2 separate regions of the Homo sapiens genome follow, and region 1 is linked to region 2. Evidence: fine-mapped expression QTL. A gene starts in region 2. The other region holds a variant in brackets. All regions are shown on one strand. Distances are from middle to middle.

Region 1 (5,383 bases), 130 kb before region 2:
TAGGTGAGACAAGTTCCAGTATTGGCTTCCACAGCGAACCCAGAATGACACTGCTCTTGGACATTCTGGCTCAAATGCTGGGTTGGATCCAAGGGGCCAGATCCCTTCTGCTCTGTGATGGCCTACTTTTCAGCACCCCCCACACCACCACCACTTTAATCATGCCTCCCTCAGGGCCACCCCAGTCCATCAGATGACTGAAGTCCAACCAAAACAAGGTTCAGACCTTTTCCTCATAGACCATACTGTTTAATCTCTGTGTAAATCGATGTATGTAAATGGACACATGGGGAGAAAGGAGTTGCCTAACTGTCCCTATCAAAGGCATCTGAACACCATCTCCTGCCCAGACAACATACTTCATTTTGTTAAAAAACCTGGACTTTATTCTGTAGGCAAAGAACAGCCAATAAAGTTTTTATGTAGTATGCTAGAATGCTAATTATACTGTATTAATTGATGATTAATATTCATAATACACAAAAACTCTCAGAAATTGATTAGAAAAGACAAAACTAGTAGAAATAGATGACTTGAATGAAATGTAATTCATAGAAGAGAAATTCTAAGTGTCCAATATTTATTTATTTATTTGAGACTAGGTCTCCCTCTGTTGCCCAGACTGGAGTGCAGTGGCACGATCATGGCTCACTGCAGCCTCACTTCCCTGGGCTTCAGTGATCCTCCCACCTCAGCCTCCCAAGTAGTTGGGACCACAGGCGTGGGCCACCATGCCCAGCTAATTTTTGTACTTTTGGTAGAGATGGGGTTTCGTCATGTTGCCCAGACTGGTCTTGAACTCCTGAGCTCAAGCGATCCACCCTCCCTGGCCTCCCAAAGTGTGAGGATTACAGGCATAAGCTACCATGCCTGGCCAATAAGTAGATTTAAAAGATGCTCAATATGACTATCAATCAGGGAAATGAAAATTAAGGTAATAACGTAATATCACTTTATACCCTTCAGATTGGTAAAAATTAAGAGGGAAAACATCTACTATTGGTAAGAATGAGAAGGAAATAGGTACTCATATATTGCTGGGTGCAGTATGAGTTGCTACAAACCTTTTGGCAATCAGGCAAAGACTATACAATTTTAATACATTTGCCCTTCAACCTAGCAATCCCACTGCTGGGAATCTACTCTATAGAAATAAAAGCACCAATACAAAAAAAATGCATGTACAGAGGTGCTTATTGCTGCATTGTTTGTAGTTGGCGAAACACTGAAAACCAAGTGAAGCCCATCATTAGAGGAATGAATGAATAAATTACAGTGTGCTTATACATGGGGAATTGTGTAGCCATTTAAATATATGTTAGATCTATATTAATGGACTTGGAGAGATTTCGATGAAATGTGATTAAGTGGGGGAAAGCTGTATGCAAAGGTATAGATGTACTCTGAACCAATTTTCGGAAAATGATGACATCTACCAATAGCAAAACAAAAACCCTAAAACCGTTTGTGTGTGTGTTTAGGTACAGCCTGCTAGCTGCCTACCTAAATCTATTATTTCTTTCTTCCTTACTAAGAGAACCTCCATCATTAGGGGTAGCAATGTGCTCAAACGTGTCTCTTCTTGCAGATAGGAATGGCCAATGAAATTTAAGTGGAAGTTTTGGATGGAGTATTTGGATGAAGTTTAGGTGAAGCTCTTTCTGGCCCCTGGTCTTCCCCATTTCTTACCTGAAAAGGATGTATGGCTGGTGCTTTTATAGTCATTGTATGACTTTGAAGATATAGCTTGTGGAGACTGCACAGTCCTAAGGTGGCACAGGATATCACATCGCAAGGGAGCTTAGCATGCTAAGATGCTAGCTCAGGCCCCTTTTCCTCTTCTTATAAAGCCACCAGTTCCCCTTCCATGATAACACTTTAATCCACTAACCCATTCATCCATTCATCCATGAATAATGGCTCTGCCCTCACGATCCATTCATCCCTTAAGGCCCAAACCTCTCAGTACTGCCACATTGGGGATGAAGTTTCCAACACATGAAATCTGGGGGACACATTCAAACCACAGCAATTAGATTATGACACTTGTTTACGATTATACATACCCTCTTTCTAGGCCTTCTTTGTCCCTAATTAAAATTGTTCCTCCTTCAGCGCCACTCTCTGATATCTGAATCCCAATGAAGATCAAAGTTCAGACCGTTTTCTCATATGACTGATCAACATAAAAAGTGCATGAAAGGATAATCACCAAAAAGTGGAAGAATGAGGGTATCTCAGGGCGGTGGGATTTCAGGTGATCATTTCTTTCTCCCTCTTATTTTTATGATTCTTTTCATTTTTATATTGACCTTATAGTATTTACATAATCAGAAAAAAAAAACAAGAAAGCTGTTTTCAGTGTGAAACAGCAACAACCTAAGGATTGGAGTGAGGCAAGATTGGAGGCAGGGTCAACTACAAGGGCATTTTAGTAATCCAGGTAAGAACTGATGATGGGCTGAATGCAGGTAATGACAATGGAGATAGAGAGATGTAGAAACATTTAAAAATAATAAGGTGGTAGAATCAACAGGACACAGTGATTGATTGGGAGAGAGGAAGAAGGCAAGCTTCCTTGCTTAAGTAAGTGGGTGGAGATGTATGCTATTCTCTGACATAGGGAACACAGGAGGAAAAGCAAAGACTGAGTGGAAGACATGAAGCATCTTCAAAATATTGAAGCCCACTCCCCACTCTGAATACTTTAGGCAGTTATTTCCAGTGATTCCTAGCCACAGTCAGGGCTGAAAAATGCTGGTGAAAACCCCGACATGGGGCTCTCAGGGGAACCCACACTTCAAGTGTGGACTGAGGACCAGGAACTTAAAGGCTAAGAAAACATGGCCAGGGAAAGAAAGGGAAACCAAAGAAAAGCATGTCTTGGAAATGGATAGAGGAGGAAGTTTCTGCTGGTGCTCAATAAATATTGACTAGATGACAGAAAGAAGGAGAGTACAATGGTGTCAAATATTCCTGAGGAGTCAAGAAAGAGAAGGGTTATAACATGTCCAATGGAGTTAGCCTCGAAGAGGTCACCTATGATCCTTCTGGGATCTGTTTCTGTTGAGTGGTGAGAAGTGAGGGCAAAAATCAATGGTTTGACAAC[T/C]GAATGGAAGAGGACAAGCTATCCTATTGAAAAGTGTGATACTAACTTAGAAATTACATTTACAAAACATAATTTGTGATATTGAGAAATACTTAGAATATAACACTAAGTGAAATGCAGGATATAAAACATTACCTATACTATATGATTCCAATTCTGGTATAAATTAGAGGCATAAGGAGCAGGATTAAGATCTCACCCTCTGAAGCCAGACTCCCTGGGATCAAATCCTGACTAGGCCACTGACAGGATGTGCAGCCATGGTAAAGTCCCTCACTGGGTGGTGGTTAGCCTGGCACACAGAAAGTGCTCAGTAAAATGTTAGCTATTAAATGCTGAATGTAGATATATACACATAGAAACAAAATATCCTCAGGTGAGGCTGGGCGCTGTGGCTTATGCCTGTAATCCCAGCACTTTGGGAGGCTGAGGTGGGTGGATCACGAGGTCAGGAGATCGAGACCATCCTGGCTAATACGGTGAAACCCTGTCTCTACTAAAAATACAAAAAAATTAGCTGGGTGTGGTGGCACGCACCTGTAATCCCAGTTACTCGTGAGACTGAGGCAGGAGAATGGCATGAACCCAGGAGGCGGAGCTTGCAGTGAGCCGAGATCATGCCACTGCACTCCAGCCTGGGGGACAGAGCAAGACTCCATCTGAAAAAAAAAAAAAAAAATATATATATATATATATATGTCTCCTCAGGTGGAGAGATTCCAAAATGAGTGGCAGGGTTACAAAGTTGGTTTTTTTTTTTTCTGTACAGTTTTCTTTGTTTCTAAATATTTCTTTGTTTTCTAAATATTCTGTAATGAACGTATACTACTTTTATAAGTAGAGAAAAATGTGAAACAGTATTTAACAAAAAATAAGCTTTTCTGTTAAAGGAAAGAGAAAGAAAAGGCATTTTTAGTCTGTTTTGTGCTACTATAACAGGATACCACAGACTGGGTAATTTATAAAGAAAGGAAATTTGTTTCTCACCGTGCTAGAGGCTGGGAAGTCCAAAATCAAGATGCTGGCTCCTTTTGGGGGCCTTCTTGCTGCATCCTCACGTGGAAAGCAGAAGCGCAAGAGAGAACCAATTTCCTCTTCGAATCCCTTTATTAGGATACCTAATCCCATTCAAGAGGAGGAGCCCTCATAGCATAATAATCTCTTAAAGGCCATGCCTCTTAATTCTATCACATTGACAACACCTGATTTTTGGAAGGGACCCATTTAAGCCATAGAATTGGGCAATAGCTACAGGGTATAGGATTAATGTTTCATGTGCTCATGATGAGACTTCCTATTCACAGTTTTTGGGAAAGATCCTGAAAGGAGTCGAGGGTGACAACTGATGTAATGATTTTTTTTTTTTTTTTTTTTTTTTTTTTGAGACAGTGTCTTGCTCTGTCGCCCAGGTTGGAGTGCAGTGGCGCGATCTCGTCTTACTGCAAGCTCCACCTCCCGGGTTCACGCCATTCTCCTGCCTCAGCCTCCTGAGTAGCTGGGACTACAGGCGCCCGCCACCACGCCCGACTAATTTTTTGTATTTTTAGTAGAGACGAGGTTTCACCGTGTTAGCCAGGATGGTCTCCATCTCCTGAACTTGTGATCCGCCCGTGTCGCCCTTCCAAAGTGCTGGGATTACAGGCGTGAGCCACTGCACCCGGCAGTAATGATGTTTTTGTGAGGAAAAAGGAAAGCATGAATGTGGTGTGGGGAATTAGTCTTTAATAGGACATCTCTTCCTGTGACTGGGGAAGAAAGAATTTGTGAGTAGGTATAAATACAATAATTTGTAGGTGCAGAAACAGGAGGTTGAGGAAGTTCATGACTGATAGCCTTGATGTTAATCACTGAAGCCAGCAAGGCTGTCCACTGAGAGGCGGGAGTCTGAATATCCACAGAGGGATGAAGGAGGAAACTGACACACAGCTGCATTGCCAAACAGCGCTGACAGCCTGGTGCTGCCTGGAGACGTGACTCTGCTACGGCCCTGACCTAGGTCACCCCCAGTGCAGCAGATGCAGCCATGGTTCTGTCATACCGTTCTCGCGTGCTTGTGGCTTGCTCTAGATCCTTAATTGGGTTGCTTCCCATGGGAATTCCACTCCTTCTCCCTCTCACATACAGAAATCCTACTCAGTCTGCAAGGCTAGCTCAGGTTTGTTTATTCAACTATTCAGATATTAATTCATCCAGTTTCCAGCTGGTCTTTCAGAACCCCATGGCTTCTGGGTTCAGGAACTTGCAAAAGCTCCATCTCTGTCTTTTCTCTTTGAT
Region 2 (5,383 bases):
ATGTTAGGTTCACTGGTGTGTCTACATGGTCCCAGTAGACAATGAGTGTGTGTGAGTGCTTCCTGTGATGAAATAGTGTCTGGTCTAGAGCTGGTTTCCACCTTGTACCATGAGCTGCCAGGATAGGCTCCGGGCACCCACAGCCCTGAGCTGGAATAAGTGTGTCAGAAAATGAATGAATACAAATCATTGTAAAATAAAAATGGGTAAACTTTACAATAATCATACAAATGAATGACAATAAACGATTTGGTATGAAAGGGCTCAGTGAGCTGCCATATTTGTGATTGTTTTTGACCTGGGTGGTGGTAGGAGGTGCTCCTTCCAATTTTCACTTTGCAAACATTTATTCCTTGATTTAGCCCACCACCACTATGACCGAGGTCACTCGCTGATACACCAAAACTTGGATAATTATCTCACCTGTTTTTATTAATCTTTCTCAAATATATGTATAGCACACAATTATTTCAACATTTAATATTAAAAGTACTTTGAGTCTTTCTTTAGAAGTTCGGTGGTGTTTGTGTGACCAAAATATGCCACTGAAACAATTCTTATTTATATCAAGTAGCCTATGGTAGAGTTAGTTTAGTTATACACTGTTTTCCCTAAAGTCACAGTTTCCAAGAGCCTATCTAGACATTAAGTGAGGACTTACTATATAAGTAACAGAAGGTTGTATGTATGTAGAAGTGGAAGAAGCCCTGGTTGTGGCTGTGATCATCCAAAGGAGTAGGTAGAAGAAGAAAAGGGGTCAAGGATGGAACACCAACACTGAAGAGGAAAGGAGATGATTCTATAGATTTCATATAATAACGAATGAATTTCAGTGACTATTATGTAACAACGAATGAGTACTTGAGAATAGGAAAGAGGGAAGGGAAAGGTAAACACATGGAGAATTAGGAGAAAATCTGTCACAAAATAGAGGCTGAACAGCTCCCCCAGAACACACATATAGTAAGGTGTGGAAGTATAATAAAACCCAGGCAGTTTAACTTCAAAGACAGAGTTCTTAGCCACTGTGCGTACTGTCACTCTTAAACAGAGGACAAAGAAGTTACTCAAACAAGGTCCCAGGAGAGACAGAAAGAGGAGCATTTAAGTATAATTACAAAGATTATCTAAGAGGGAAATAAATAAGGATGGTATAAAGTTTCAGACTGCTAGCAGGAAGTTGAGGGACTACTTCTCAGTCTCTTTCTCAATATTATTTTCCTAGACTCATCGCTGAATATAAAAATTCCCTTCTCAGGTTCGTTTTCCACATAGTTTCAAGGGGAAAAAGAACCTCTGGCTATAGTCGACCTTCACATGAGTGAGATTTTATTTCTGTCCAAGGTTAATCTGGGTAGTTAGCTCCCTTATCTGAAACTTACCAAAAAGTTTAAGTTGATGACATCCAAATCTAACCTCAAATCTCTTATTGCCAATGTTTTAGCGTAAGAAAATAAGTTAGATTTCTACGTATTAACATGGGAATACGTTCAACTTATACCATTAAAGTGAAAAAACTGGACGTTTTGATCCGATTTCTGAAAATAATAGGTATTACCTCTAGCGTCGAAAACATCTGGAATAATATACTTCAATCTATTAACAGGGGTCATCTCTGGCGGATGTGGTTACAGGCATCTTTCACTCTATAATTTAAATTTTTATGACCGTGTAGTAAACGGGGAAAATAAGATTTTGTTCCTGTTAGAAGCAGATATCCTGTCTTCTCTGCTTGACTGAGTTCCTTAACAGCGGGTCATATTCACTGGTATATACCTATAGCACATAGCTGGGCTCACTAAGATTCTACAACAAACGAATGAATTAATCAATGATTAGGAGTTTTGAGCATCTCAAATAACCGTTGAAGGAAACATATACACACAAATGCATGCATTTTCCCGTTAACGCGCAATGGAGATGTAAGCTGTAAGGGGCCTTGGAAGGCAGTTATTTCGACGTCCCTGCCTACGTTACGATTTTAAAAGCCCGATTACGATTACAAGTGTCCCGAGGGGATGAAAGTACAGCTTTCTTTAGTAGTCCCTGCTAACACTAATTTACCCTTGCCATGGGAGAACTCAGAAGCTGAGTTCAGAATTGGAGTCGGCCCTGGTCGGAGGTGGCGTGTGTTTCGGGGGAAATGAATTCCGCCAGCTCCGAGCAGCGGTTGGGACCGTTACTCACCATTTCTCAGGACGCCAAGCTGGGGCTGGCGGAGCACCGAATTGAAGAGCATCAGGGTCGGAGGAAAAGCCTCAGCTGAGAGAAAAGTCGTAGAAATGCCTCCAAGTTCAGCAGAAATCGCAGCTTGCGCCTCTCACAACACAAATCGTTATCGCCTCCAACTCCCGCCACTGTAAGCCCCGGCCGCCAAACTCCGCGCCAAACTGACGTCACGCTCTCTGATTGGCTTCCGAGCGACGTCCGGGCGCCTCAGAGTCATTTCCCCCTTCGGATCCCCGCCTCCTTTTCTCCCAGCCGCGGGAACCTGGAGTCCAAGAGCTCCTTGAGCGCCTGCGCAGGGGGTAGCAGAGGCGCGGACAAACCGCGGGGTGACCAGGGCGCATGCGTAACAGGGCTTGACAGCGCGCGGAAGAAAAACCAGCAAGAAGGCGGCGGGGGAAGATGGCGGTCCTGGGGTAGAGTTTGCAAGCTTTCTGACTAGGCTAGTCGAGTAACTATTCGGGTCATGGCGTCAAACTCAACTAAGTCTTTCCTGGCAGATGCCGGCTATGGCGAACAGGAACTGGATGCCAACTCTGCCCTTATGGAATTGGACAAAGGTATTCGAAAGAGAGGGCTGAATGGGTGAAACAGGCGTGGGGGGAAGTGGCGCCACCAGGTGGTGGTTGCTTTGGGAGAAGACGGATAGGCGCATGCGCATGTCTTCGCTGGGCGGGGAGCGCCTGTGCTTTTGCTGGGGCGTGGGCTTTGACCCCTTCGGGAGGTTGCGGGAAATTTGCAGGATTGTGTGACTGGCCTTATACCGGCTAAACAAGTAGCGAGCTCTAGTGAGAGGCCCGTTTTGACCACTTGAGGGAGCAGTCCCCCGATTTTCTAAGCAGTGACAGTGGCTAGTTTCTAAGAGACACTGCAAAGAAATTGTGAAATTGGTTTTCAGTCTGTTCAGTTGAGACCAGGTCTTCATGAAATGTGCTGAATAGTAATCTTGCACCGACTTGACAGCGATTCATTTGATTTCCATAGCTCTGTTACCTGCGGGTTACAAGGCAGGCTAAACCTGGCCAAGACCATAAAAAAGCAAGGGCCCTGCTCATTCTCTGCGGACAAGTTCCAGGAGTTCTGTTGCCGTACAGGGAGCAGCTTGGTGTAGAGGGAGCTTTGGGGTTACACTGAGTTAAGTTTCAATGCCGCTGATTTTATGATTAACTTCATCTAGCCTCGGCTTGTCGTCTGCAAAGTGGGTACAGTACCATTGAGCCGGCAGAATTGTATTAAGTGACTTAATGGTATGCAAAAGAAGCATTTAGTAAATGCTGAAGAGATATACCTCCCTTCTTAGATGTGGATATGGGAGGCAAGGTCGGAAATTTGTTAGTAAAGAACTCGACTAGTAATATGAAACCTTTATTTCATATTGAGGATTTTTATTGTACGGGAAACATTTCGGCAGCTGGTATACAATTAAATCTTGATTAATCGTAGCCAATATATAATGTTGGAGAACTGGACTAGAACTCAGAAGGGTTTGAGCCACTTCCCAGTTTTCTGAGTTGGACATGTCTATTAACTTTTTTGGGACTCTTTTTCTGTTTATTTTTTAAACTGTGAATATTTTTAGTGGGTTAGTCTAAATAAGAGTTTCTCAGGCTCTTAAAAAAGCTTTTACCTTATTTTGATAAACACAAAAATTTCACAGCCCCCTAATGGGATATTCCTTTGGTTGAGTCTCAGTATCTTTAGTGCACCCCCATCAACCAAGAAAATTATGTTGAACTTTTCCTTCTCTTACCAAATCTTTAGGGGTTTTCTCCTCTGAAAAAAAAAAGTATAATACTAAATGTGTTTTTCTCTTTTTTTTTGGAGACAGAGTGTTGCTCTGTTGCCCAGGCTAGAGTGCAGTGGCGCCATCTCGGCTCACTGCAACCTCCGCCTCCCGAGTTCAAACGGTTCTCCTGCCTCAGCCTCCCGAGTAGCTGGAATTACAGGCGCCCGCCACCACGCCCGGCTAATTTTTGTATTTTTAGTATAGACGGGGTTTCACCATGTTGGCCAGGCTGGTCTCCAACTCCTGACCTCAGGTGATCCGTCCGCCTCGGCCTTCCAAAGTGCTGGGATTTACAGGCATGAGCCACCGCGCCCGGCCTTAAATGTGTTTTTCAAACACTTTCCTCCTCATTCTGATACATTTCTTTCTTATTCCTCAGTGAAAGTTACAGGTCAGGATAATATCTAATATCCCTACGAGTTCTAAGGACATTTTCTACCATTCTGGTGCAGCTGAGCTTGTCTCATGCTGACAATAGGATAGTGGTTGTGGAACAGGGATAAAGATGGGGCACTGAAGAGGAGTCTAGAATGGTTTAATTCCTCAAATTTTGCAGTTGTAAGAAAAAAACCACAATTTTTCCTTTTTAAAGAAGAGTTGAAATGAAAATATTTTATATCTATAGGAAAGAAATCAGGTGTCAATCTTAGACACAGAGTAAGTGATCATTTGCACTCCTCCCAGCAATGCCTGGCGTGAGTGTTTTACAGGTGAATCTCAGGCTCAGAAAGATGACTTGTTCTTTTTCATCTCATCTGTAGTAACTTTTAAAGCTGTTAGGAAATTAAGTTATAGAAATAGCCAGTTTCGTGTAGAATATAGTTGAGTATTTTAAATATTGAGTCATTTCATCTTGTACCTGTTAAAGTATTTCTGTTTTGTGAGCTAAAGGTCAGAAGGCTACAAGTTCCAACTCTTTTTTTCGTTCCCAAACTCCAAGGAATACTGTTTCTGAAATATCTCCCCCACCTCAGCATACACACTCAGACACATGACTTATTTGATCGGGCTTTGTACTAGGAACATGGCAGTTAATGAGACAAAACTCCTGCCCCTATAGAGCTTACATTCTAGACAGCAGATGCAGACACTCCGCAAATATAGCAAACGTGACAGTTAGTGATACATATTATAAAGGAAAATGAAGCAATGAAAGGGACTGGAGAAAACTGATCTGGGGCTGGAGTTGATTTCTTATTTTATGAAGTATAGGCAAGAAAGACCTCCTCAATCAAGTGGAAGAACAGCAAGTACAAAGGCCCTGAGGTAGAAGCCTCCTTTGCATGCAGTTATCTGGAGCAAAGTAATAGGCAATGAGTATAGAAAGATAACCAGAGTCAGTCGGGCGTGGTGGTTCACGCCTGTAATCCC

The links. PIP is the estimated chance that this variant, and not a neighbour inherited with it, causes the effect.
Region 1: its variant is the best candidate, but not a certain one, in a credible set for the expression of INTS7 in whole blood (TOPMed, PIP 0.61).

The regions. Positions count from the first base shown.
Region 1 is chr1:212,166,979-212,172,361 of GRCh38, reverse strand. No RefSeq gene overlaps it. Among named protein-coding and RNA genes, the nearest start is that of MIR3122, 92 kb to the right of the region's middle. The variant T/C (reference allele first, on the strand shown) is at 3,110.
Region 2 is chr1:212,032,747-212,038,129 of GRCh38, reverse strand. INTS7 (integrator complex subunit 7) reads left to right here and starts at 2,573. Exons shown (of 20, transcript NM_015434.4): 1 at 2,573-2,786. The coding sequence starts at 2,693. It overlaps DTL (denticleless E3 ubiquitin protein ligase adapter), which reads right to left and starts at 2,382. Exons shown (of 15, transcript NM_016448.4): 1 at 2,188-2,382. The coding sequence starts at 2,239. RefSeq lists enhancers at 1,563-2,097, 2,113-2,352, 2,098-2,634, 2,513-2,722.